7 linked regions of the Homo sapiens genome follow. The protein of the gene in region 3 purifies or fractionates together with the protein of the main gene of each other region. This does not show direct contact. Each region holds a gene or a part of one and is shown on either strand. Other genes may lie near its edges. The genes, in order: ARHGAP44, RBM38, ARHGEF6, ABLIM1, SLAIN2, ARHGEF9 and NT5DC3.

Region 1 (3,500 bases), on a different chromosome or scaffold from region 3:
ACCAAAATGAAGGTTAAAAAAAGTAAATTGAATTCTGTGGGAAAATAAACATTTATTCTAAAAATAAGCTCTAAAGTTGGAAAATGAAAGCAAAACATCTGCTTCCTGGACAGAAAGAAGAGTTTGAAATTGCTAGACAGCCACAAGCTTCCCAAAGGCGGTGGAGTTCCAGGTGCCAGCTCAATTGGATGCCCCACGCCCGAGGGAAGAGGCCTGACTCTCTGACTCTCCCCCCAACCTCCTGCCTGACCTACAACTACATCCACACAGATGTAGCATAATTTTATTATTTGCTGTCTTTATCAAATAGCATTTGAAATAAACTGCTTTTGATTATTAATAAAAGGGATACTTACTAATCCCCTCTAAAAGGAATGACCATAAATTACCAGTATATTTGTATGGCTACTGATCCACTTTCTCTAGAGAAAAAAAAAATGGTCCTTATTGCCCATCATTAAAAAAAAAAAATCATTGATAAATTACTTTGATGGAGACAAACTGGGAAGGAAAATGATTAATTGCTATTTAAGAGCATGGCTTCCTCACGATGACTTGCAGGTCTGGGATAACAGAATTCTGCAGGAAATCTAGACAGCTTCAGGCTGACTGCTGACAGCAGCTCAGCAGAAGGTGAAACCCAGCAGACCCACACAGTGAGGATCTTAGAAGATAAGAGCAAAGAATATTCTCTCCAGATTTGCTAACCCAGTAATCGGTGGGTTAGTACACTCTGTTATCTCTCACATATATACAGCAGAACAGGCAGTAAGGCCTGGGCTTCCATAAAACTCTAATGAAAAACTTTGCTCTGAGACCCATTCAATGTGCACAGCGCTCTTTGGGGGACGAGTTTGGGTCCGCCCAGCCCTGCTGGGCTAACAGGAAGCCCATGGCAGGGCCTGTGTTGGTCTGGCAGGTCTAACTCACAGTAAGGGAAATAGAAGGGAAGGAACAAAGCAGTCCAAAGCCAAATTTGGAATTGGTTCTGATTTTCCTCTAATGTCCTATTGATTGGGTCACGGCTCTTAGAAGGCCTACTACAAGGCAGGGCAATGTCTCAGAGATACCTTCAAGGAAAAGATCCTCACTGACTTTGGCAGCTTTGGCCCAGACAAAAATGTCTGCAGCACCAGTGCTCCTAGAGGCTGCTGCAGCCTCAGCCTCCAGTTCCCAGGCTCCCCACCACTGGCTAATGCCTAGGCCTCTGCAGCTGAATTCCAAGAGCTGCACAGCAGCAATGATACCTGCAAAGCTGTGCACCAGAAACCAAGCCTGCTTTGCAATGTATGCAAAGCAGTCAAGGAATAGAAAACAAGGCTCCAGAGACAAAACTTTGTCTTCACTCCCCAACTCATAGCCTCTAAATCCACACAATTCAACCCGACCCAACCAGCCTTCTCCTTCCCGCACACCCACAGTTCCTCACCTACTCCCAGACACTTTGAACATCACTCATTTTAAACAAGAGGACAAGCCCCACTTGGACCATCACTGGGCAGTAGCTGTTGAAATCGTTTCTAAGAATCCTTTTCTACTTAGGAGGCCAACATTATTTTTGGAAGACTTGAATGGGTGTTCAGTGACAACGAACCACCTCAACCATTTGTTGAGGACTTCAGTGGACCAGGCTCCCTCCAACCTCATGACAGCCCTCTGAGGATGGGGCCGCTGTGAACCCACTGTGCAGACTGGAAAAAAAAGTCCTCCCCACCAAATCAAGGTACCATTACTTCTTCCATTTGCTTTATCTTAGTGGGTCTCGTGGGTGCCAAATTTTAGCTCAGGGCTTTGCTCCACCCAACATCAAGCAAATGTCACTTCCAAGAAAAATACTCTATGCCTTTCGGTATGCTTCTCACTCCAGCAACTGCTAGACTCTCTTGAAGGTAAAAAGAAAAATGCTGCCATCAATCAGGCAAGAACCAAATTCTCCCGTAAATCTTGCTCTGCCCTTCCAATGCCCAGAAGTGCAGCTGTTCCTCTCTCCTCTGACCACCATCACAACGTTAAAGAAACATGGTATCAGGAGCTTTCCCCATCTTTGAACTACTTCAAAAGACTCCCCTATCTATAGCGCATGGATCTTTTGTTCACTTACTCATTCCATTGCCAAAGAATGACAGAGGACCTTCTATACAGGGCAGCGTTAGGGCAGCTGTCCCTGCCTCCAAAGAGTTTAAAGTCTAGTGGGGAAAGTAAATGACAAAAGATAAAAATTATAACACAAGTGAGCCATTATTACCATAGCATGCTTTTAGAATGCAGGTTCCTTTTTTTTTTTTTGTGTGAGATGGAGTCTCACTCTGTCGCCCAGGCTGGAGTACAGTGGTGCAAGCTTGGCTCACTGCAACCTCCACCTCCCGGGTTCAAGCGATTCTCCCGCCTCAGACTCCCCAGTAGCTGGGATTACAGGCGCCCGCCACCATGCCCAGCTAATTTTTGTATTTTTAGTAGAGACGGGGTTTCGCCATGTTGGCCAGGCTGGTCTCGAACTCCTGACCTCAGGTGATCCACCCTCCTTGGCCTCCCAAAGTGCTGGGACTACAGGCGTGAGCCACCACGCCCGGCCTAGAATGCAGGTTCCAGGCAAACAGGAATTTTGTTTGCCCTGTACTGCAATACTCCCTGAACCAGAGCAGTGTCTGGGACACAGTAGACATCTAATAAAGGTACATATGCCATAGTGCATATAATTCAATAACAGTCATAACATTTGCCCAGAGATACTTGTAGCTACCATTTATTAAGCATTTCCTAGTGCTGAGCACTGCTAGGTACTTTTCACAGGTTATCTATGTTATCACTGTGGTTACCACATTACCACAGTGCAATCCTTAACTACTCCCATTTTGCAAGTAAGAAAATTAATGTGCAGAGAATTAAGCTCTGGATTCCATAGTCAGCAACAAACTAAACCTGTCCCAGTGGAAAGCCTGTGCTCCTAACCATGAGGCACACAGTGGCCAGGGAGTGCTTCCCAAAGGACGGATTGAAGTGAAGGGACAGAAAGGGGAAAGTTCAAAGCAGAAGGAACACGTGCAGACTAAGGAAACAGACCAAGGAGGGGCTGAAACTTTTGTCAGTTAAATACAATGGGTTTTATCAAATCTTTTCATAGTCGCTGACGCCCTTAATATGACTTGGATGTGAGCACTTCGAGAGAAAGTACTAGTAACCCAGCAGAGTATGTTTAAGTAGGGCAACTCCTACATTGTTAAAATGACTTTAAGTTTTATATTCAGAACTCCAGAACCTGCAACTTAGGGAAGGCGAGCCATGAGGAAGGACTTTCAAGTCCTCTTAGTCCTCCCTCGGAAAGAGGAAAACTTTAGAAAAATATAAGGATAAAAATCAAGTGCTTTATAACTGCACACCTAAAGTCCAAATTCCAATCCTATGTGCTTCTACTGATTTAAGAAATTAACAGGCAACCGCGGGCTCTTTTACTCCAATACTCATAGGATCATGACCCAAAACATTCTCAATAATAGAGGAGA
Region 2 (3,500 bases), on a different chromosome or scaffold from region 3:
CCCATGCCCCACAGCGCCTCAATCCCTCGCATCCTCCCCACCTGGGCCTGGCACCTGCCAATGCCTCTGCCTGGAGCCCTTAACCTGGCGAGGCCCAACCCCACATGGAGGCCAGCCCCTCACCTCGCTACGCTGCCCGATGCCCCACTGGATGGCGTTCTGTCAGGGAGATGGCTCTGTCTGGACTCCCAGCTCTCTGCCAGGACCAGGCCTGTAGGAGGCACTGGGCACATGGTGCTGACGGAACAAAGGCCCGGTGGGTGGCACAGACCCCACTGAGAAGGATGAGGAGCTCTGGCCAGCGGAGGCAGGGGGCCCCAGAAGGGTCTCGGAGGCCTCCCTTGGGAAGGGGGCGAGTGGAGACACAGCAAGGACTGTCTTGGGGCTGTGCCCAGCAGGCTGTCCCTGGCATCATCAGTGCCCCCCCGACCCAGCTCTCAGAACCTCGAAAACATTCCTTAGTAGGAGGCTATGGAAGCTTTGAACCCACACACCTTCTCCAAACATGGGCAGTGATGCCCCTGCCTCAGACATCTCCCCGCAAGGTTTTGCTAAAAATGTGGATCCCATGCAGACTGCAAAGGCAGATGGGGCCCAGGAATGTGCAAGAACAGGCCCCGGGGTCCTGATCCACAGCTGCATTCAAGAACCGCTGCCCAGACCAGGGACACAGAACACAAGTGCCTGGGGCTGTGGGGCAGCTGGGTTCCGGCCACACTCACCTCGAGGGCTGCGTCATTTCTATCGGGTTCTGATGCCCCACATCATCGGGGCCAGAGCGCTGCCTTGGCCACCAAGGAGCTGCCCTACTCAGGGACACTCAAACACAAGCGTGGGTGAGCAATGTTTAGGCTGGGGAGGAAGGCGGGGCTCTCCTGTTTCCTGACCCTTGCAGACACTGCATGTCGGTATCTACTCATCTTTCTGTACGTAAAGGGCCTGGGATAACTTACGAAGCATTTTCAAAGCCACGGAAGGCTGGGCGCAGTGGCTCACGCCTGTAATCCCAGCACTTTGGAAGGCTGGGGCGGGCAGATCATGAGGTCAAGAGTTCAGGACCAGCCTAGCCAACATGGCGAAGCCCTATTTCTACTAAAAATACAAAAATTAGCCAGGTGTGGTGGCGGGAGCCTGTAATCCCAGTTACTCGGGAGGCTGAGGCAGGAGAATCGCTTGAAACCAGAAGGTGGAGGTTGTGGTGAGCTGAGATCATGCCACTGCACTCCAGCCTGGGCGAAAGAGCAAAACTCTGTCTCAAAAAAAAAAGCCATAGAAAAGATGCTAGTGTTAGCCCATCTCCCAGAGAGGAAATCCGAGGTTCAGAGAGGCCCCAAGCGACTTGCCCCATCGCAGAGCAAGGGACTGGTACAGTGGGGCCTGCTGCTGGTAGCTGTGCCTGCAAGGACTGGCTGGGGCCCCAGGTTCAGCTCAAAATAAAAGGAAGGCACAGCACGGGCCACACCTCAAGCCCCAAGGGGGAGTGAGAACACCGGCTGAAGTTAAGGTAGAAGCAGCCACGAAGCCCCGCCAGGCAGGAGCTGGGTTCCAGCAGCTTCTCTCCCTCCTAGGGTTGCGCCTCGCCCCTGCACTTGTCTGAGTTACCAAACAGGTTTCAAAACTTCCAAGGCGCAGTTTCCTCATCTGTAAGTTGGGTCCTACAGAGGCTGACCTCAAAAGCTTGCTGTGAGGCCTAGAGGTGCCACTAGAACAGCGATTCCCAACCAGGACAACTGTGCCCCCAGGGGACACTGGAAAATGCCTAGGGACGGTCCTAGTTGTCACAACTGACAACTAGGAATATGAGGTGCGGGTGGGGGTGCTGCTGACATTAGGGGTCGAGGCCAGGGGTGCTGACCGCTTCCTACAATGCTCAGGGTGCCCCCACAACAAAGAACGATGCCGTCCTAAAGGTCCGCAGTGCCAAGGCTGAGACGCCCGACTGTGGACCATCAGAAACCACATGGGGAAGGGGAAGGGCAAAGACAAGGGATCCTCACTGCTGCTCTGACCACAGGTGCCCACGCCGGGCGGCCACAAAGAAGGCAGGTGGGAGCAAAGAGAGACAGAGGGGCTCATGCAGCCACGCACGCATGGGCGAACCCACTGAGTGGTCAGGTGAGAAAGAAAAATGCAGCCAAACCACCGGCCCTGCACTGTCCAAGGGCGGCCCCGCCCCGGCCGCAGGCCCAAGGCTTCACTGCCTGGCAATGGGGAGCGGGTGCACGCACCAGGCAGGTTCCTCAGCATCCCCACTCACACGCCATGCTCAGAAAGCTCAGGTGCCACAGCCTCTGCACACAAGGGCACAGCCTGGTAGCTGCACGCCGCCCCACCCACCAAGTGTGTCCCCTGCACAGGCTCGCCTGCCAGGGCACGTGTCTGCCTGGCCCTGGTGGGACTCTCCTGCACTCTCCACCTCAGTGAAGAGCCCACCAGGCCACCCAGGCACTGCCCTGCCCACTCACCCCCACTGCAGCCTATGCCCACACCATCCAACAGGGAGCTCCCTGCTTCCATCCCTCAATTCTCCGATCCTCCCTCTCCTTCATCACCGACTCTCCAGGCGGGCGCAGTGGCGTGGCCCTGCCTTGGTGGTGGTGGAGACCTGCCTCCATCCCTGAATCCTTCACCCAGCAGCAGTTGGAGCTGTCTTAAAAACATCAAGACCCACGCCTGGAATCCCAGCACTTAGGGAGGCCGAGGCGGGCGGATCATGAGGTCAGGAGATTGAGACCATCCTGGCCAACACGGTGAAACCCCATCTCTACTAAAAATACAAAAATAGCTGGGCGTGGTGGTGCGTGCCTGTAATCCCAGCTACTCAGGAGGCCGAGGCAGGAGAATGGCTTGAACCCGGGAGGCGGAGGCTGCAGTGAGCTGAGATCAAGATACTGCACTCCAGCCTGGAGACAGAGCGAGACTCCGTTTCAAAAAACAAACAAACGAAAACATCAACACCCCATCACCTCCAGAAGCAGAACCCTCCAGCTGCCTCCCACTGTACCCAGAAGAAAACCCAAACTGCTCCCTTGTGGCTTCCTGCGTTATTAGGCCTCAACCTACCTCTTCTAACTCATCTCCACTTGCACTGCGCCCTCCCTGGCCACACTCCCACTGCCCTGGGCTCCTTCTGTTCCCAGATTCGACTCCTTCCCACCACAGGACCTTCGCACCTATGCACTTGCTTCTTCCCACAGCTCAAAGCTCACCCCTCAGGGGTCCACCCAGGCGGCTCTGTTTCCTTATGATCGGAAGCCCCTTCATCATCTACCTTGCACAATGTCTTCCCCACAAGAGCAGGGTCTCAGCTGCTGCGTCCCAAGTGCCCCAGCACAGCAGGTGCCCAGTGCTGAGCATCTGAGGCAGGCCCCGGCTTTGCAGGTAGCTGGGAGGCAAAAGAGCCCCCCCGTGGAATGGCCTCTGCTTCCCAGGCCAAGAGTCCCTGCCCCAAGAAGGCAGAGAAAGCAGTTCAGCCTTGAGCAGCCAGGGCTGGGCAGGCT
Region 3 (3,500 bases):
ACTGCAGTGAGCTGTAATCACACCACTGCACTCCAGCCTGGGCAACAGAGTAAGACCTTGTCTCAAAAAAATAATTATATTTCTATACACTTGCAGTGAACAATTTAAATACCAAATCAAGAAAACAATCCTATTTTTTTATAACACCAAAAATAATAAAATCCTTTGGAATAAATTGAACCAAGCAGGTATAAGACATGTACACTGAAAAGTACATAATATTGCTGAATGAAACTAAAGACAAATAAGTGGAAATACATCCCATAAGACAAATAAGTGGAAATACATCCCATGTTCATGGATTCAAACATTTAATATTATTAAGATGGCAACACTCTCCAAAGCAATCTATAGATTGAACACAATCACTATCAAAATCTCAGCTGGCCTTTTTTGTAGAAATTGACAAGCTGATCCTAAAATTCATATGGACATGCGAGGGATCCAGAATGGCCAAAGTGATTTTGAAAATGAAGAACAAAGTTGAAGGACCCGCTTTTAAAACTTACTACGTAGCTACATTAATCAGTTCAATGGAGGAATTGGCTAATGTTGTCTTTTCAACAAATGTTACTGAAACAACTGGATGTGCATATGCAAAAGAATGAATTTGGACCCGTACCTCCTACCATATACAAAAATTAACTCAAAATAGATCAAAGACCTTAATGTAAGAAGTAAAACTATATTATTCTTAGGAGAAAACAGGAAAAAAATTCTTCAAGACATTTGATTATGAGTTTCTTAGATATGACACCAAAAGCACAAGCAACAAAAGAGATGAATTTGACTTCATCAAAATTAAAAACTTTTGGACAGGCAATAACAAATGCTGGAGAGGATGTGGAGAAAAGGGAACCCTCATACACTGCTGGTGGGAACGTAAATTAATACAACCATTATGGACAGTTTGGAGGTGCCTCGAAAAACTGAAAATTGAGCTACCATATGATCCAGCAATCCCACTGCTGGGTATGTTACCCAAAAGAAAGGAAATCAGTATATGGAAGAGATAACGGCGCTCCTATGTTTGTTGCAGTACTGTTCACAAATAGCTAAGATTTGGAAGCAACCTAACTGTCCACCAACAAATGAATGGATAAAGAAAATGTGGTATGTATACACAATGGAGTACTATTCAGCCATAAAGAAGAATGAGAATCAGTCATTTGCAACAACATGGATGGAACTAGAGATCATTATGTTAAGTGAAATAAGCCAGGTACAGAAAGACAAACATCACATGTCCTCACTTATTTGTGGGATCTAAAAATAAAAACAATTGAACTAATGGGCATAGAGAGTAGAAGACAGGTTACCAGAGGCTGAGAAGTATATTGGGGAAGGAGGCAGGAATGGTTAATGGGTACAAAAAAAATTGAAAGAATGAATAAGGCCCATTTGATAGCACAACAGGGTGACTATAGTCAATAATAATTGTACTTATTAAAATAACTTAAAGAGTGTAATTGAATTGTTTGTAACACAAAGGATAAATGCTTGAGGGTATGGATACCCCACTCTCCATGATGGGATTATTACACATTGCATGCCTGTATCACAACATTTCATGTACCCCACAAATATATACACCTGCTATGTACCCACAAAAATTGAAAGTAAAAAACAAAAATGTCTAATTAATAAATTTTTGTGGGCCAGGCACAGTGGCTTACGCCTGTAATCCCAGCCTTTTGGGAGGCTGAGGCAGGTGGATCACTTGAGGCCAGGAGAGGCTGGACAATATGGCAAAACCCCGTCTCTACTTAAAAATACAAAAATTAGCCAGGCATAGTGGCAGGCACCTGTAATCCCAGCTACTTGGGAGGCTGAGGCATGAGAATCACTTGAACCCAAGAGGCCAAAGTTGCCGTGAGCCAAGATTGTGCCACTGCACTCCAGCCTGGGAGACAGAGCAAGACTCCGTCTCAAACAAACAGACAACAACAACAAAAAAAATTGTGTTACAAAGGACACTATCAAGAAGGTGGTGGGGTGCTTCCGAGAGCACTTTGTTCCCAGATGTCTCAGCAGACTTTCCTGATCAGTTACTAAATGTGTGATCCTCTAAAGACCCTAAGACATTGTAGCCATATGAGAACACACAGATGGGGGTTACTTGGAGAAGCCGACTGGCCACCCAGAGGACCAGAAGGCAACAGCTTTTTTAATGTCGTCACCATGCCCCAGAGCCCAGTACTCAATTTGTCGGTACGGTGCTGCATCTGCGGCTCCATTTTTCTGCATTTCCAAGCTGACAATTTCAAGCCGGTATGCTTTCTTTAGATAAATAATATTGTGTTCTAAGCAACAGTCAAGCCCTGCTCTTCTTGCTTTTTGTACATCTACAGTTTTATAGGGTCAACAAAAATCTATTAGGTATGTCCTATGCCAGGCACTGTGCCAGGCACTTTGGGCCCGAGAGAGACTCTATCCAGGGACATTTGCAAATATTTATGTTTAAGTCTGTCTTCCAGCTACCTGGAAGCTTCAGACAAGATGATGAGTCTTCTTGGCTGCTTCGTGCTCCCCAGCTCAGCTTTCGGTCTCATTCCTTATGTATTGATTTTATTAGTCTTCTTTCTGGGTTCTAGGAGTGCCTCAATATGGCTCCTATATATACCTTACAAGAATAATTTTGCACACAACAATGCAGAGAACATTACCGAGTAATAACACCACAGAAAACAGCTATTGTGTATGCCTTATGTGCAGTGCTATATTAAGTGCCTTGGATGTATTATCTCATTTGATCCTTAAAACAATCATATACAGCAGATACTATTAATGTCTCCATTATACAGATGAGGAAAAAGGAGCATAGAGAGGTCAAGTAACTGTCCCAGAGTTATGCAGCCAGTAATTGACCAAGCCAAGATTCTAATCTAGGTCTGCCAAACTAGAGAAGGCATGTGCTTAACCACGATGTCAGATATTGCCTCATTACAATATTCATATAATGCCCAGGTCAGCATGAATTACCAAAAAGAGATAAAAGTGTTTCCAGTGCCTTTTATTTAAGAAGAGAGAAAATTAAGACATACATTTTAGAAATATTTCTATCTTGTGCTCACTTCAGCAGCCCATATACTAAAATTGGAACGATACAGAGAATATTCATATGGCCCCTGTACGAGAATAACACAAAAATTTGTGAAGTGTCCCATAAAAAAATAAAAGTAATAAACATAATTTTTTTAAACAATAAATATTTCTATCCAAAGTGGAAGAATATTTTAAGCATTGGTGCTTAAAGGAGTAAGCATTAGTTATCAGAAAAATCCTGAACAATGCCTAACCTGGAAGGTGTTTCTGTATCATCCAGTATTCTTAGAACTGCAAAGAAGCTAAGTAAACCTTCTGGCAGCTTTAGAATGCAGAAATCATTGGCAACTTCACCATGTTTTTATTTGAAAAAAAAAAATACCATAGTATTGGCCAGGCGTGGTGGCTCATGCCTGTAATCCCAGCATTTTGGGATGCCAAGGTGGGCAGATCAC
Region 4 (3,500 bases), on a different chromosome or scaffold from region 3:
CTAGTTACATAAGATCTATATTTTTTGAATGACTACTATGTATAAACCATCTAGATAGGCAAGAGGTGGTCCCAGTCTTCAAGGGGCTTGAAATCTGGCAGGCAAGGCAAGACAGGTGTCTGTTAATAGTAACTAGAATATGGCAGAATACCTGCTGGGCTCTAGAGGAGATGGCATTGGTGCTGGAGGTCAGAGGGGTGTGGAAGGTTTGGGTTGTTGTGGGAAGGAAAGAGAGACCACATGGGGGCATGTGTGCAGTGCATGTGTTGAAAGGCTGCTGGAGGGCCAGGCAGAGCAAGGTGGTATCCACCCAGGTAGTGCCACACCTTCCTTCCCTCATGCAGTTCTGCTGAAGGAATGACTGTGGGATTGAACATTTCTCCAAGTCTTTTCCCAGGATGTGGGCCAGGAGAAAAGGAATGAAAGGAATGGCCACCATGAAGGGGTCCTCTTCATACCCTCCTTCCTGTAGCAAGGGCCTGCAGCAGCCCAGAAGGACAGTCTGTTATCAGTCAAGAGGCTGCTGAATCCTTTCAAATGATGTTTTCTAAGCATATAGGAAATGCACGTGATATTAGTCAAAGGATACAAAGTTGCATTTATAGTATGATCTCAGTTTTATATGTGTGTATACAAAAATACTAGATAGATATAAATCAAAAGATAGTGTTATTTCTGAGTGACATATTATGGGTTACTCTTCTTTTCTTCTAGATTTTCCAAAATCTGTAAAATTAGCATGTATTACCTTTATTTCTTGTTTTTAAACAAATCAAGGCAATTTCTTTTTAAAGGATACCAGCCCCAGTCTTCCCTTCCCACATCAAAAATCCACACACACTCACACATGCCTTCTGAGGTCTCCTGGCTCTTTAGGGAAAGCAGAGGAAGGAAAACGTTCTTCTAACACAGAGCCTGACTTAGGGAAATGGAGCTTTGAAACTGAAAGGGCTAAGAGGGTTTAGGGTCCCAAACTTGACCTACCTCTTCAGGAACTACCAGGCTCTGGGGCCACATGCATTCAGGCCCTCCAGCAAGAGAAACTTCTTGTGGGATCTGCTACAAAGAAACTGCAGCTCCATGAAAGTAATTGCAAGCTTTGCTTTCTTTTTTTTTTTTTTTTCCTTTTTTCTGTGAATAGCTTAACTCAGGCCTGGGACAGTTGATCTTGAAAGAAGAGATGGAGAAAGAGAGCCGGGAAAGGTCATCTCTGTTAGCCAGTCGCTACGATTCTCCCATCAACTCAGGTAAGCAGCAAACCCCCAACCTTCCCTGATTCGAGAGCCAGCCACCTGCTTGTAAGGCACCTGCCTTGACTGTTCACTTGTGGTGGAACCTACAGAGTATTCCACGGGAAAGGAAGTGTGGGAAACCCACTCCATGTCAAATGAGCTCATAAGCATGTCATGGGTCTTCCATAAATGTGTGTTTCCTTTCTTCTGGAAATGGGTGAACCCTTGGAGGTTCTCAAAATCCATGAAGGCCAATCCCCATATACTAGGTTTGTCTTCTAGAACACTCATCTCCAAGGGAAGCAGCAAAAGGAAATCCTCTAAAAAACATGATGCTTTTCTTCTTCTTCTTTTTTTTTTTTTTTTTTTTTAGATAACATGAATAAGACATTTTCTAAGCATTATGATTTTACATTAATATCTTCAATAGAGGCCGGGTGCGGTGGCTCATGCCTGTAATCCCAGCACTTTGGGAGGCCAAGGCAGGCGGATCACCTGAGGTCAGGAGTTTGAGACCAGCCTGGTCAACGTGGCGAAACCCCATCTATACTAAAAATACAGACATTAGCCAGGCGTGGTGGTGGGCTCCTGTAATCCCAGCTACTCGGGAGGCTGAGGCAGGAGAATCACTTGAACCTGGGAGGTGGAGGTTGCAGTGAGCTGAGATCACACCATTGCACTCCAGCCTGGGCGACAAGAGTGAAACTCCATCTCAAAAAAAAAAAGAAAAAAAATCTTCAATACAAGAACTGAGGATGAACAGTGTTTTTGATACTTTTGAAGAAGATGACTTATACACTGGGCTGAAATAGCCTATCAGTGTATTTTCCCCTGTATCTATTTGTCATAAGCCAATTCTCTCTTAAACCACAAGATTTCTTCTCTCATATTCTGAGCTAGAGCATAATTTTCTCCTCTAAGAGTTCCTTTAAAAATGCATTTAGTGGGGAGACCAAGGCGGGCAGATCACAAGGTCAGGAGATCGAGACCATCCTGGCTAACACAGTGAAACCCCGTCTCTACTAAAAAATACAAAAATCAGCCAGGTGTGGTGGCGGGCTCCTGCAGTCCCGGCTACTCGGGAGGCTGAGGCAGGAGAATGGCGTGAACCCAGAAAGCTGAGCTTACATTGAGCCAAGATTGCGCCACTGCACTCCAGCCTGGGTGAGAGTGAGACTCTGTCTCAAAAAAAAAAAATGCATTTAATGTTCACTCCATGCAAGCATTTTTGCTAAACATTTTATTTAATGTTCACAACATGCCAGTGAAGTAGATGTGGTTGTTATTAGCAACTGCAGCATTTTCATCTCTATTTTAGAAATCAGGAGGCTGGTATAGAAATTGAGTTAACATACCCAGCGTGATACGCCAATAACTAGCAAGACTAGGATTTAGAAGTCCACATATTATAACCCCGGAGCCCACACCCTTACCTGGAATTCCCGCTACCCTTCATAGATGCCTCACTGGCATTGATCTTGGATTCGGTGGTTTACAAATCTTTAGAGTTCCTTGGAATTCTGAGATTCTGCTCTATAAGAATGTATAACATTGTACCTGCATAGATGAAGAAATGAGGACTTCAGAAAGATTAAACACCATGTCCGGAGATACAGAGGTATTAAGTTGCAGAACCAGAATTCAAGCCCAGGGCTGCTCCCTCTCAAGCCCAGCAGCTTATCAGGCTTCCATATCATTGACAGATACCCTGTATCAGGCCTCCCAGGAGGCCAGCTGTAGATGGCTGGTAGATCTTGATAACATACAGGGTTGGCTTCCAGTTCAGTTACTGCTGCCTTATCAACTGGGGCATGGGCTAATGTATTCAGATATCCCTGATTTACATCCTTGCTCAGCTGTTTAGAAGCTTAGTAACTGTTGGCAGGATATTTTTCTTAGCCCCTATTTCTCCTTCTGTAATATGGAACTAATAATCATAGTGTTATTAGGGTTATATTGAAGATTCAAAGAAATAAAGCATGCTGAACACTTAGCTCCATGCCAGAGCTATAGGAAGCACAGCCAGCTTCAGCCCCCACTCAACCGCGTGGACTTGACTTTCCCTTCCCTCCTCAGTCATATCACTGTCCACCCACTCCTTGCAAATATGATGGCATATTTTTGAACATTTGAGCCCAATATGATTTGAATTTTTTTGGTATTTCTATCCTGTGAGGTAGAAGATACTGCCAATTTCATTAAAGGATTGGACCTTCTGATTTCCTAACAATTGGTTTTTTACTTTTTTCTTACTCAGCTTCACATATT
Region 5 (3,500 bases), on a different chromosome or scaffold from region 3:
TACACAGAAAATCCCAATGAATCTACACACACACACACTTCTAGAAATAATAAGTGAATTCAGTAAGGTCACAGAACTGGATAAAAATACAAACACTGACTATGTTTCTATATGCCAGCAACGAACATTAGAAATCAAGATTAAAAATACCACACCATAGATAGCTCTTATTATTTTGAAATACATCCCATCAATACCTAATTTATTGAGAGTTTTTAGCATGAAGGGTTGTTGAATTTTGTCAAAGGCTTTTTCTGCATCTATTGAGATAATCATGTGGTTTTTGTCTTTGGCTCTGTTTATATGCTGGATTACATTTATTGATTTGCGTATATTGAACCAGCCTTGCATCCCAGGGATGAAGCCCACTTGATCATGGTGGGTAAGCTTTTTGATGTGCTGCTGGATTCGGTTTGCCAGTATTTTATTGAGGATTTTTGCATCAATGTTCATCAAGGATATTGGTCTAAAATTCTCTTTTTTGGTTGTGTCTCTGCCCGGCTTTGGTATCAGAATGATGCTGGCCTCATAAAATCAGTTAGGGAGGATTCCCTCTTTTTCTATTGATTGGAATAGTTTCAGAAGGAATGGTACCAGTTCCTCCTTGTACCTCTGGTAGAATTCGGCTGTGAATCCATCTGGTCCTGGACTCTTTTTGGTTGGTAAACTATTGATTATTGCCACAATTTCAGAGCCTGTTATTGGTCTATTCAGAGATTCAACTTCTTCCTGGTTTAGTCTTGGGAGAGTGTATGTGTCGAGGAATTTATCCATTTCTTCTAGATTTTCTAGTTTATTTGCGTAGAGGTGTTTGTAGTATTCTCTGATGGTAGTTTGTATTTCTGTGGGATCGGTGGTGATATCCCCTTTATCATTTTTTATTGTGTCTATTTGATTCTTCTCTCTTTTTTTATTAGTCTTGCTAGCGGTCTATCAATTTTGTTGATCCTTTCAAAAAACCAGCTCCTGGATTCATTGATTTTTTGAAGGGTTTTTTGTGTCTCTATTTCCTTCAGTTCTGCTCTGATTTTAGTTATTTCTTGCCTTCTGCTAGCTTTTGAATGTGTTTGCTCTTGCTTTTCTAGTTCTTTTAATTGTGATGTTAGGGTGTCAATTTTGGATCTTTCCTGCTTTCTCTTGTAGGCATTTAGTGCTATAAATTTCCCTCTACACACTGCTTTGAATGCGTCCCAGAGATTCTGGTATGTGGTGTCTTTGTTCTCGTTGGTTTCAAAGAACATCTTTATTTCTGCCTTCATTTCGTTATGTACCCAGTAGTCATTCAGGAGCAGGTTGTTCAGTTTCCATGTAGTTGAGCGGCTTTGAGTGAGATTTTTAATCCTGAGTTCTAGTTTGATTGCACTGTGGTCTGAGAGATAGTTTGAAAACTGGCACAAGACAGGGATGCCCTCTCTCACCGCTCCTATTCAACATAGTGTTGGAAGTTCTGGCCAGGGCAATCAGGCAGGAGAAGGAAATAAAGGGTATTCAATTAGGAAAAGAGGAAGTCAAATTGTCCCTGTTTGCAGACGACATGATTGTTTATCTAGAAAACCCCATCGTCTCAGCCCAAAATCTCCTTAAGCTGATAAGCAACTTCAGCAAAGTCTCAGGATACAAAATCAATGTACAAAAATCACAAGCATTCTTATACACCAACAACAGACAAACAGAGAGCCAAATCATGGGTGAACTCCCATTCACAATTGCTTCAAAGAGAATAAAATACCTAGGAATCCAACTTACAAGGGATGTGAAGGACCTCTTCAAGGAGAACTACAAACCACTGCTCAAGGAAATAAAAGAGGACACAAACAAATGGAAGAACATTCCATGCTCATGGGTAGGAAGAATCAATATCGTGAAAATGGCCATACTGCCCAAGGTAATTTACAGATTCAATGCCATCCCCATCAAGCTACCAATGACTTTCTTCACAGAATTGGAAAAAACTACCTTAAAGTTCATATGGAACCAAAAAAGAGCCCGCATCGCCAAGTCAATCCTAAGCCAAAAGAACAAAGCTGGAGGCATCACACTACCTGACTTCAAACTATACTACAAGGCTACAGTAACCAAAACAGCATGCTACTGGTACCAAAACAGAGATATAGATCAATGGAACAGAACAGAGCCCTCAGAAATAATGCCGCATATCTACAACTATCTGATCTTTGACAAACCTGAGAAAAACAAGCAATGGGGAAAGGATTCCCTATTTAATAAATGGTGCTGGGAAAACTGGCTAGCCATATGTAGAAAGCTGAAACTGGATCCCTTCCTTACACCTTATACAAAAATCAATTCAAGATGGATTAAAGATTTAAACGTTAGACCTAAAACCATAAAAACCCTAGAAGAAAACCTAGGCATTACCATTCAGGACACAGGCGTGGGCAAGGACTTCATGTCCAAAACACCAAAAGCAATGGCAACAAAAGCCAAAATTGACAAATGGGATCTAATGAAACTAAAGAGCTTCTGCACAGCAAAAGAAACTACCATCAGAGTGAACAGGCAACCTACAACATGGGAGAAAATTTTCGCAACCTACTCATCTGACAAAGGGCTAATATCCAGAATCTACAATGAACTCAAACAAATTTACAAGAAAAAAACAAACAACCCCATCAAAAAGTGGGTGAAGGATATGAACAGACACTTCTCAAAAGAAGACATTTATGCAGCCAAAAAACACATGAAGAAATGCTCATCATCACTGGCCATCAGAGAAATGCAAATCAAAACCACTATGAGATATCATCTCACACCAGTTAGAATGGCTATCATTAAAAAGTCAGGAAACAACAGGTGCTGGAGAGGATGTGGAGAAATAGGAACACTTTTACACTGTTGGTGGGACTGTAAACTAGTTCAACCATTGTGGAAGTCAGTGTGGCGATTCCTCAGGGATCTAGAACTAGAAATACCATTTGACCCAGCCATCCCATTACTGGGTATATACCCAAAGGACTATAAATCATGCTGCTATAAAGACACATGCACACGTATGTTTATTGCGGCACTATTCACAATAGCAAAGACTTGGAACCAACCCAAATGTCCAACAATGATAGACTGGATTAAGAAAATGTGGCACATATACACCATGGAATACTATGCAGCCATAAAAAATGATGAGTTCATATCCTTTGTAGGGACATGGATGAAATTGGAAACCATCATTCTCAGTAAACTATCGCAAGAACAAAAAACCAAACACCGCATATTCTCACTCATAGGTGGGAATTGAACAATGAGATCACATGGACACAGGAAGGGGAATATCACACTCTGGGGACTGTGGTGGGGTCGGGGGAGGGGGGAGGGATAGCATTGGGAGATATACCTAATGCTAGATGACACATTAGTGGGTGCAGCGCACCAGCATGGCACATGTATACATATGTAACTAACCTGCACAATGTGCACATGTACCCTAAAACTTAGAGTATAATAAAAAAAAAAAAAAAAAAAATACCACACCAATTGCATTGCTT
Region 6 (3,500 bases), about 73 Mb from region 3:
AAACCTGTCCTGAAGTCAATAGTTCTTAACCAGGCTCTTTTAAAACTTCCAGGGGGGACTGGAGAAGGCGAAATAGAGTTTGTTGGGTTCTTTGCAGGACCAACCCCTGCATAAGGGATTCTGGTGTCTTGGAAAGAGCTCTGAACTGAGTAGTCAAAGAATGTAGGTTCTAACCCTTGCTTTGTCGCTAACTTACCATGTGACCTTGGGTATAACATTTCTTTTCAGATATCAGTGTTCTCACCTGTAAAACAGATTATAGCAATACCCCAAATTTCTTTGATACCTGACTAGATGTGGAAGTGTGTAGGGTTGCAATAGTAGCCATGGTATTCCAAAATCTGTTTGAAAGAGGAATTCTCCCCTTGGATGATTTGTAAAACCAGTTCACACTCTCTAAACCAGTCTGCCTTGAGTTGTCTGCCCAGAGTGGTCACTGGGTAATTTGAGAAGCCCTTTGTTACATAACTTATACCCTTTCCCTTTGATCTCTCATCTACTCTAGGTGTCAACTCTGCCCGCTCAGTTCCTCCTTCCTACCCACCACCGCAGGACCCGTTAAACCACGGCCAGTACCTGGTCCCCGACGGCATCGCTCAGTCGCAGGTCTTTGAGTTCACCGAACCCAAGCGCAGCCAGTCACCATTCTGGCAAAACTTCAGCAGGTTAACCCCCTTCAAAAAATGATACCTACAGGGAGGCAGATAATTTTAAAATAAAGTAAATAAAATTATATTTATAGATGGACCTTTTTTCGGAGAAGCACTGTTGAAATTTATACACACACACACACACAGAGACCCTTGAGTACACATACACACACACACACACAGACACACACACACACACACACACACACACACACACAGAGAGATAAGGAACAAAAGTGTTTTCTGTTGTTTTGGGGAAGTGAAATATGTGGTTGGTAGGAAGAGGTACCAATGACTTCCAAACATGTGATTCCGTCTTAAAAGTTTTCCATTTTTACCCTGTCCCCCTTCCCTTTGCTTTCAGAAGTTGACATTTCTATTCATTGCTTTTCTTGTTAAGATAATCTCTTTACTCCCCTGTGAGTGATTCACTGCCTTGTCATTATTACGATAGATGTGTTTGTATTGTTTTTTTTCTGATGATACTGATGTTGATGAATTTTTAATTTTATTTGATGTGGTAGAGTTGGGAGGTTTCAGGGTTTTTTCCCCTCTTTTACTTTCCATTGAGGAAGGGAATGAGCTCCTTTCTCCTCTCCTTCAGCCAATCATTATCAAATGTTCCTTCAGCCCTGCAGTTGCCCCAAATAACCTTTTTTCAGCATCCTCTGTCCTCAGTCATGCCAGTCTGGACATGCTCTGTTGTGCCCTGTGACAAAACTGCTCAGTATTCCTATTGCTTTTACTGTGTTTTAGGTACTGTGAAGGGATCAAAAAACCAAACAGAAGCAAGGGAGTATCAGACTATGATGATGCTGGAGTGGACTTCTGTTCAGGGAACATTTTGCATTCAGGCTGTTTCTTCTATCACTGGGGTTTCCCATGTTGCAGCACTTCTGGGTCGTTGCAATTTTGCATCTAGGAGTTAGTTTGATCGAGTTATTCTCTTTTTTCAAGTCACTTTTGTTATAGGTCTCCCCCTAGGCCTGTCTCTCCCTTAGCCCAAAAGATCTGAACTGGAAGCAGAGGTTGAGATTCTGCCTCCCAGGAGAGGGATTTACCTGCCCCCTAGTACCAGATAGGTTTAGGGCAGTGATCTCTACAGCAATCAGTTCAGTGTCCTGGTTGTCCCTGCTCCCATTTACAGATGTTTGGGCAGCATTGATAGAAGTATGGAGGGGTTCAAGACAGAGCCCACCTGATCAAGATCATCAGCTACCTTCAAATTATTGACCTGGACAGGGTCCAAGTCTGATAGTAACCTTTTACAAGAAAGAACAGGGATGGGAATGGAAAGAGATAGCCTTGATCCACAGTATTGTACCTGCATTTTCTACCACCCTAAAATTGTGTGAGACTTCTCCCATTGTTAACAGATTGCATGGACAATCTTCCCTGGCTTCTTTCTTTCCCTCTCTCTTTCTTCTTTCTCCTGCCATCCTAGCACAGGAGGATTTTTGGTATTGATATAGTTAAAGCTGTTCTGGCACTCAAAGAAGGCCGTGTTTCCAACATCCTCTCATCCCAGGACATTTGGGGCAAGTGAGTTAGGGGCCCAGGGGCAATTTTCCCTCTGAATAACGTGTCTGAGGCAGGGATGCTACCCTCAGGCTCGCTTTTGGCCAGCTTTTTGCTTGGGAAAATCTAACTTCTTTCACAAGGAGGCAGGCTTCCTATGGATGTTGGAGTACCTGTTTTTCCTCCACACATAGCCCTTTTCATGGATAGACCTTGAACAACAAAAAGGGTATAAGGGAATAAGGATGAACTCTGCTGTGAAGAGCAAGCCACTGTAGTGAGGAATGTGGAGACTGGGAGTCTGTCCTAAACCCCATGGGAGAAGACTTCATCATGACAGGACTTCAGCTTACCAAGCAGCAGCCATAGCTGTGTGGAGGCTTCAGCATAGCTAGCATGTTTACTGCTCTATGCCTCCTGATCCAGACCAGGCATTGCCCAGCCTGGGAATCTTTTCTTTGTGGGAATCAAATTACAAGCTATTTAAGTTTATATTCCATCACAACCAAGTCAGACTTGTATTATAAGTCAAGGATGAGCCTGATCTGGGGAGAGGGCCGGGGCTCGGGACTGGCCACCACTGTTCAGCACATGACCTAACTACGTAAGCCTCTTTGGCAAGGGTCCTGGTGCCCAGCACCCAGGCTAAAATATCCTGTCTGGCAGAGTGTTTTGGTAGCTATGCAGGCCTCCCTTCAGTGTACCTCTTTTTCCAACTTCTCACTCCTCCTTACTAGGCTTGGCCTTGACATGCTTCTTCGAGGGTTGGCAGCACACCGGGAGGGGATGCTTGGACAAGTTTCTGGGCCTACATTTCTTGACTAGGCCCTCTCATTTCCTCCCTCCTTGGGGCTTCTGCCCAGGGCTCCAGGATCAGGGATATTACTTCTCAACCCGCACTTCTCCTCTACTGAACCCACTGGCATCACCTGATGCCACTAATTTGTGAACAACAAGAAATCATTTCCCCATTGGTTGGAGTATTCCCTCAGCCTATAGCATCAAAGCAGACCAGTGGCCAACAGCCCCAAGGGGAGCCCAATTAAATACCTGGGTTCAGTATCCTAACCTGTTATGTCCTGACAGCAATGGTAACCCCAGTAATTCTGTAATGTTGTAATTTCCGCATGGCCCTGAGCTCCCTTTTCCTCAACTCAGTGAGGCCAGGATTTGCTCTCCAAAAGGCTTTGCTAGTGTGTTCAATGGGACCTGCTGTGGGGAGTCCTAAGACAGACATCTAATTATTCTCTCTTTTTCCCCCCCTCTCTATGTGTATATTTCTAATGGATCTATAAGAACAGCAACAAGAGAGTTCTAACAATTCTAGTGTGA
Region 7 (3,500 bases), on a different chromosome or scaffold from region 3:
GGTGCACACCTGTAATCCTAGCTACTCAGGAGGGTAGGCATGAGAATCACTTGAGCCTGGGAGGCAGAGGCTGCAGTGAGCTGAGATCATGCCACTGCACTCCAGCCTGGGCAACAGAGTGAGACTGCCTCAAAAGAAAAAAAAGAGAAGAATTTCCTAACATGTAAAAATTACATGAAAGTCAAATTTCAGTGTCCACCAATAAAGTTTATTGGGACACAGCTACAACCATTCATTCACATACTGTCCACGGCTGCTTTTGTGCTACAAGTGCAGAGGTGGGTAGCTGCAACAGAGCCTACAGCCTGCACAGCCTAAAATATTTACCATGTGGCCCTTTGCAGAAGCTTGCTGACCTGTGGTCTAAATGTGGCCTCTGACTGGTTGGTTACCTGAGAAGCGGCTACCAATGCCAGCACCACCACCATGAACCACAGCCATTTTGGAATGCACTTCAAGGCTAACTAATGAAATTACAACCAAAATTTATATACTTCTATTTCATTCATGAGACTCGGCTCCAAATGACACTCTGTGAGGTCAGGAGTTTGAGACCAGCCTGGCTAACATGGTGAAACCCCATCTCTACTAAAAATACAAAATTAGCTGGGCGTGGTGGCACAAGCCTGTAGTCCCAGCTACTTGGGAGGCTGAGAGAGGAGAACTGCTTGAACCTGGGAGGTGAAGGCTGCAGTGAGCCAAGATCGCGCCACTGCACTCCAGCCTGGGCGACAGAGCAAGACTCCATCTCAAAAACAAACAAACAAACAAACAAAAAAATGACACTCTACTGGCTCTGAAAAAATCAAACCCAATCTCAGAGGACCAATTTTTCTCCTCAGAAAACTGTCCAAATAATGTGCTACATGCTCTGAAAATAATCCCCAAGGGGGAGTTCTAGAAACATCTACCACAGGCTCAGTGGAATAACTTATAACTTTCTAAGGGAACACTGAGGAAGAGGGTGACAGTGAGATAGGACACTGATTTGGATGTTTTTTTAGTTAGCAGCTATACACCTCTATATCCTAGTGAATCCAACCTGACAGAACTCTGTACAAAGTGCCAGAACCCAAGGCAATCAATATAGGTGCACAGAGGTTAAGGGTCTAGAGTCGGTCGGCCTGTGTGTAAACACCAGCATCACCCCTCACTAGAGCAAGTTATATCTCCTCTGCGCCTCAGGGTCTTCATCAGTAAAATGGCAGTGATGTTTCAGAACTACTTCAAAGAGTTTCTGTGAAGATGAAATGAACTTAAAGGTCTCAGTGTCCAGAACACGGTAAGTTCTTACGACATTTCTACATAGCCTGATTCTGCCAACCGAGAACTGTGATTCTAGAAAAGTCACCTATCTCGCTGTCTCAGTTTTCTCTCCTGCAAAATGGGGGCAGCTATGTAAACCTCAACTCCCTTTTCTTCCTTCCCTTACCCCACACCTCATATAATTAATTTTACAAACCACAGAAATATTTTCAGCACTTCCATTCTCTAAAACACACATTCCTTAGTAGTCAACTTTTTACACAGGTCAGAAAAAGGAAAACAAAATAAAACCAAAAAAAAAAAAAACCTCTTTCCAAAGCTAAAATATACTGATACCATCTACGTGCAGTTGTGTTTGTACCTATGACCAGCTGCCAGGGTCACAGAGATTTCACTGAGGGTGAGTCAAGCCTTGCCTATACCCGAATCCTCTAAACAGGAAGGCACATTAGAGCAGTGCTCTGAAGCATGGACTTGGGGACTTGGTTCAAGCCCTGCCCTGCCATTTTATGACCTCAGACATGAATGATACCTAACCTCTCAAAAACTGTTTCCTTATTCTAAAATGGGAAAATTGTACCTACCTGCAAGGGACAGCTGTGACTATTAAATGAGCAAAGTGTATAGAGCCAGCACTCAGCACAGTGTCCAGCACATAAAAAGTAACTATTAGTAGTGTATGACATGCACAGACTCTAAACTACACTAACTCAGAATTGACACTGTATATTTTTAGTAAATCATCTCACAGACAAGCATAGCGAGGGAAACAGAATAAATCCTCATCAGAGGATTCTCATCAGAGAAGAGCCAAGAACTAATGGAGCCCAGTGCATCCTGGAAACAAGGCCCAGGGGGACGTGCAGGGCCCCATGCTCTGGAATGCATGCACCTGGAGCCAGAATCTGGCCTGCCACTCATGGCCCTGCCTGATCTCACTGCTCAGCCACTCCCAAGCAGAGTGCCAGCTGGGGCAGGCAAGGCAATTCCCTGCCCATTTCCAAAGCCAGAGGGCAGGCATGGGCAATAGGCTGTGGCCACAGGTTGCAGGTGTGTTAGCCAAGAGAGCAAGCACCTGTGCCCAGATCCTAAAAATGTCAGCACCCATGCTGAGACGGCTGTAGCCCAGGCAAGCTGGAGCCAGGGAGAAAGCAAGGTGCCTCATGGAACTGGAAAGGAAAGGGGCACATGGAGAATTAAGGGGATACAGCTACAAAAGAGAGGCAGCTTCCATGGGCCAGGAAACGACTGATAAAACTGCCATTCCTCACTTACCAGCCAAAACTGGCTGCCTAACTTAACTTAAGGAAGTAACTGCCAGGGAACTCCAGTAAGCCAGCAAACTGCAGGTATTATCCTCAGAATCAACTGAGGCTGGACCCAGGGATCTTGACTCTTGCTTTGAGACTCTTTCCAGTAAGCCATGGTGCCTAGACTGAAGTTTTCGTTCCAGCGGCCCCTTTATTTCACAGATGGGGAAACTGAGGCCCAGAATGGAGAAGTCCCACCGTAGCAGGTGCAGACAGAACCAGCACAGACTCAAGCACTGGCAGGGCTTCCTGAATCCCAGCATCCCACAGGAGAGCTCCTAGCAGGCTTCAGTGTGGAAGTGAGGACACTGGATCTTCACTGACAGAGGAATGTGAGCAAACACCTGCATTAACAAAGGCCCCACAAACACTGTCTAGGCAAAAGAACCCCAATCGTTATTCTACAGTCTACTGAAAACAACTTAAGCCTCATATTTTATAACAATTAAGCAGAAAATACCTGAAGTAACTTTCTAACCTCAGGCTTAAAGAAAAAGTGAGAGAGAAAAATAATATATCCAAACCTGCATCTGTTCCAATAAGCCAGTCAAGGTCTGCAGCCAGGTCATGGTTTGAATGTATTGCTCCGTGTTCATGATTTTGAGCTCAGATCTCAACTCTGGGATGATTGCACCAGTCCTCCAGCCATGCTTTAGGGTCAAATCCTGATCACAAAGATCACGAAAAGTCAACGTCAGTCTCAACAGAATCTAAACTATGTCATTATTTTCCCAGACATGAGAGGCATTCATTTAATTACTTTTTGATGGTAATGGTTAGTTATTCACCAAGCTGAATTCAATGAATTACATTTAATTAAAACCTATTTGGCCCCAGCCTTTGATCATTTCATTCCAAGAAAGTTTCAGTTCTGGAAATAATTGCCGTGAGTCACAACCCCTGCAGAAACACTAGGTCTGGAAT

The links.
Region 1: the proteins of ARHGEF6 (region 3) and ARHGAP44 purify together in Homo sapiens (affinity purification with mass spectrometry; one large-scale study listed by BioGRID and IntAct). This does not show direct contact.
Region 2: the proteins of ARHGEF6 (region 3) and RBM38 purify together in Homo sapiens (affinity purification with mass spectrometry; one large-scale study listed by BioGRID and IntAct). This does not show direct contact.
Region 4: the proteins of ARHGEF6 (region 3) and ABLIM1 purify together in Homo sapiens (affinity purification with mass spectrometry, with the first as the bait; one large-scale study listed by BioGRID). This does not show direct contact.
Region 5: the proteins of ARHGEF6 (region 3) and SLAIN2 purify together in Homo sapiens (affinity purification with mass spectrometry; one large-scale study listed by BioGRID and IntAct). This does not show direct contact.
Region 6: the proteins of ARHGEF6 (region 3) and ARHGEF9 purify together in Homo sapiens (affinity purification with mass spectrometry; one large-scale study listed by BioGRID and IntAct). This does not show direct contact.
Region 7: the proteins of ARHGEF6 (region 3) and NT5DC3 purify together in Homo sapiens (affinity purification with mass spectrometry; one large-scale study listed by BioGRID and IntAct). This does not show direct contact.

The regions. Positions count from the first base shown.
Region 1 is NC_000017.11:12,792,498-12,795,997, reverse strand, and holds part of ARHGAP44 (rho GTPase-activating protein 44), read right to left. Parts: intron 1-3,500. UniProt on the Homo sapiens protein: GTPase-activating protein (GAP) that stimulates the GTPase activity of Rho-type GTPases. Thereby, controls Rho-type GTPases cycling between their active GTP-bound and inactive GDP-bound states. Acts as a GAP at least for CDC42 and RAC1.
Region 2 is NC_000020.11:57,401,396-57,404,895, reverse strand, and holds part of RBM38 (RNA-binding protein 38), read right to left. Parts: intron 1-3,500. UniProt on the Homo sapiens protein: RNA-binding protein that specifically bind the 3'-UTR of CDKN1A transcripts, leading to maintain the stability of CDKN1A transcripts, thereby acting as a mediator of the p53/TP53 family to regulate CDKN1A.
Region 3 is NC_000023.11:136,770,933-136,774,432, forward strand, and holds part of ARHGEF6 (rho guanine nucleotide exchange factor 6), read right to left. Parts: intron 1-3,500. UniProt on the Homo sapiens protein: Acts as a RAC1 guanine nucleotide exchange factor (GEF).
Region 4 is NC_000010.11:114,441,776-114,445,275, reverse strand, and holds part of ABLIM1 (actin-binding LIM protein 1), read left to right. Parts: intron 1-1,141; coding exon 1,142-1,247; intron 1,248-3,489; coding exon 3,490-3,500. UniProt on the Homo sapiens protein: May act as scaffold protein. May play a role in the development of the retina. Has been suggested to play a role in axon guidance.
Region 5 is NC_000004.12:48,414,529-48,418,028, reverse strand, and holds part of SLAIN2 (SLAIN motif-containing protein 2), read right to left. Parts: intron 1-3,500.
Region 6 is NC_000023.11:63,635,215-63,638,714, reverse strand, and holds part of ARHGEF9 (rho guanine nucleotide exchange factor 9), read left to right. Parts: intron 1-505; coding exon 506-687; 3' UTR 688-3,500. UniProt on the Homo sapiens protein: Acts as a guanine nucleotide exchange factor (GEF) for CDC42. Promotes formation of GPHN clusters.
Region 7 is NC_000012.12:103,782,235-103,785,734, forward strand, and holds part of NT5DC3 (5'-nucleotidase domain-containing protein 3), read right to left. Parts: coding exon of another isoform or gene 3,442-3,500; exon of another isoform or gene 3,374-3,441; intron 3,242-3,373; coding exon 3,101-3,241; intron 1-3,100.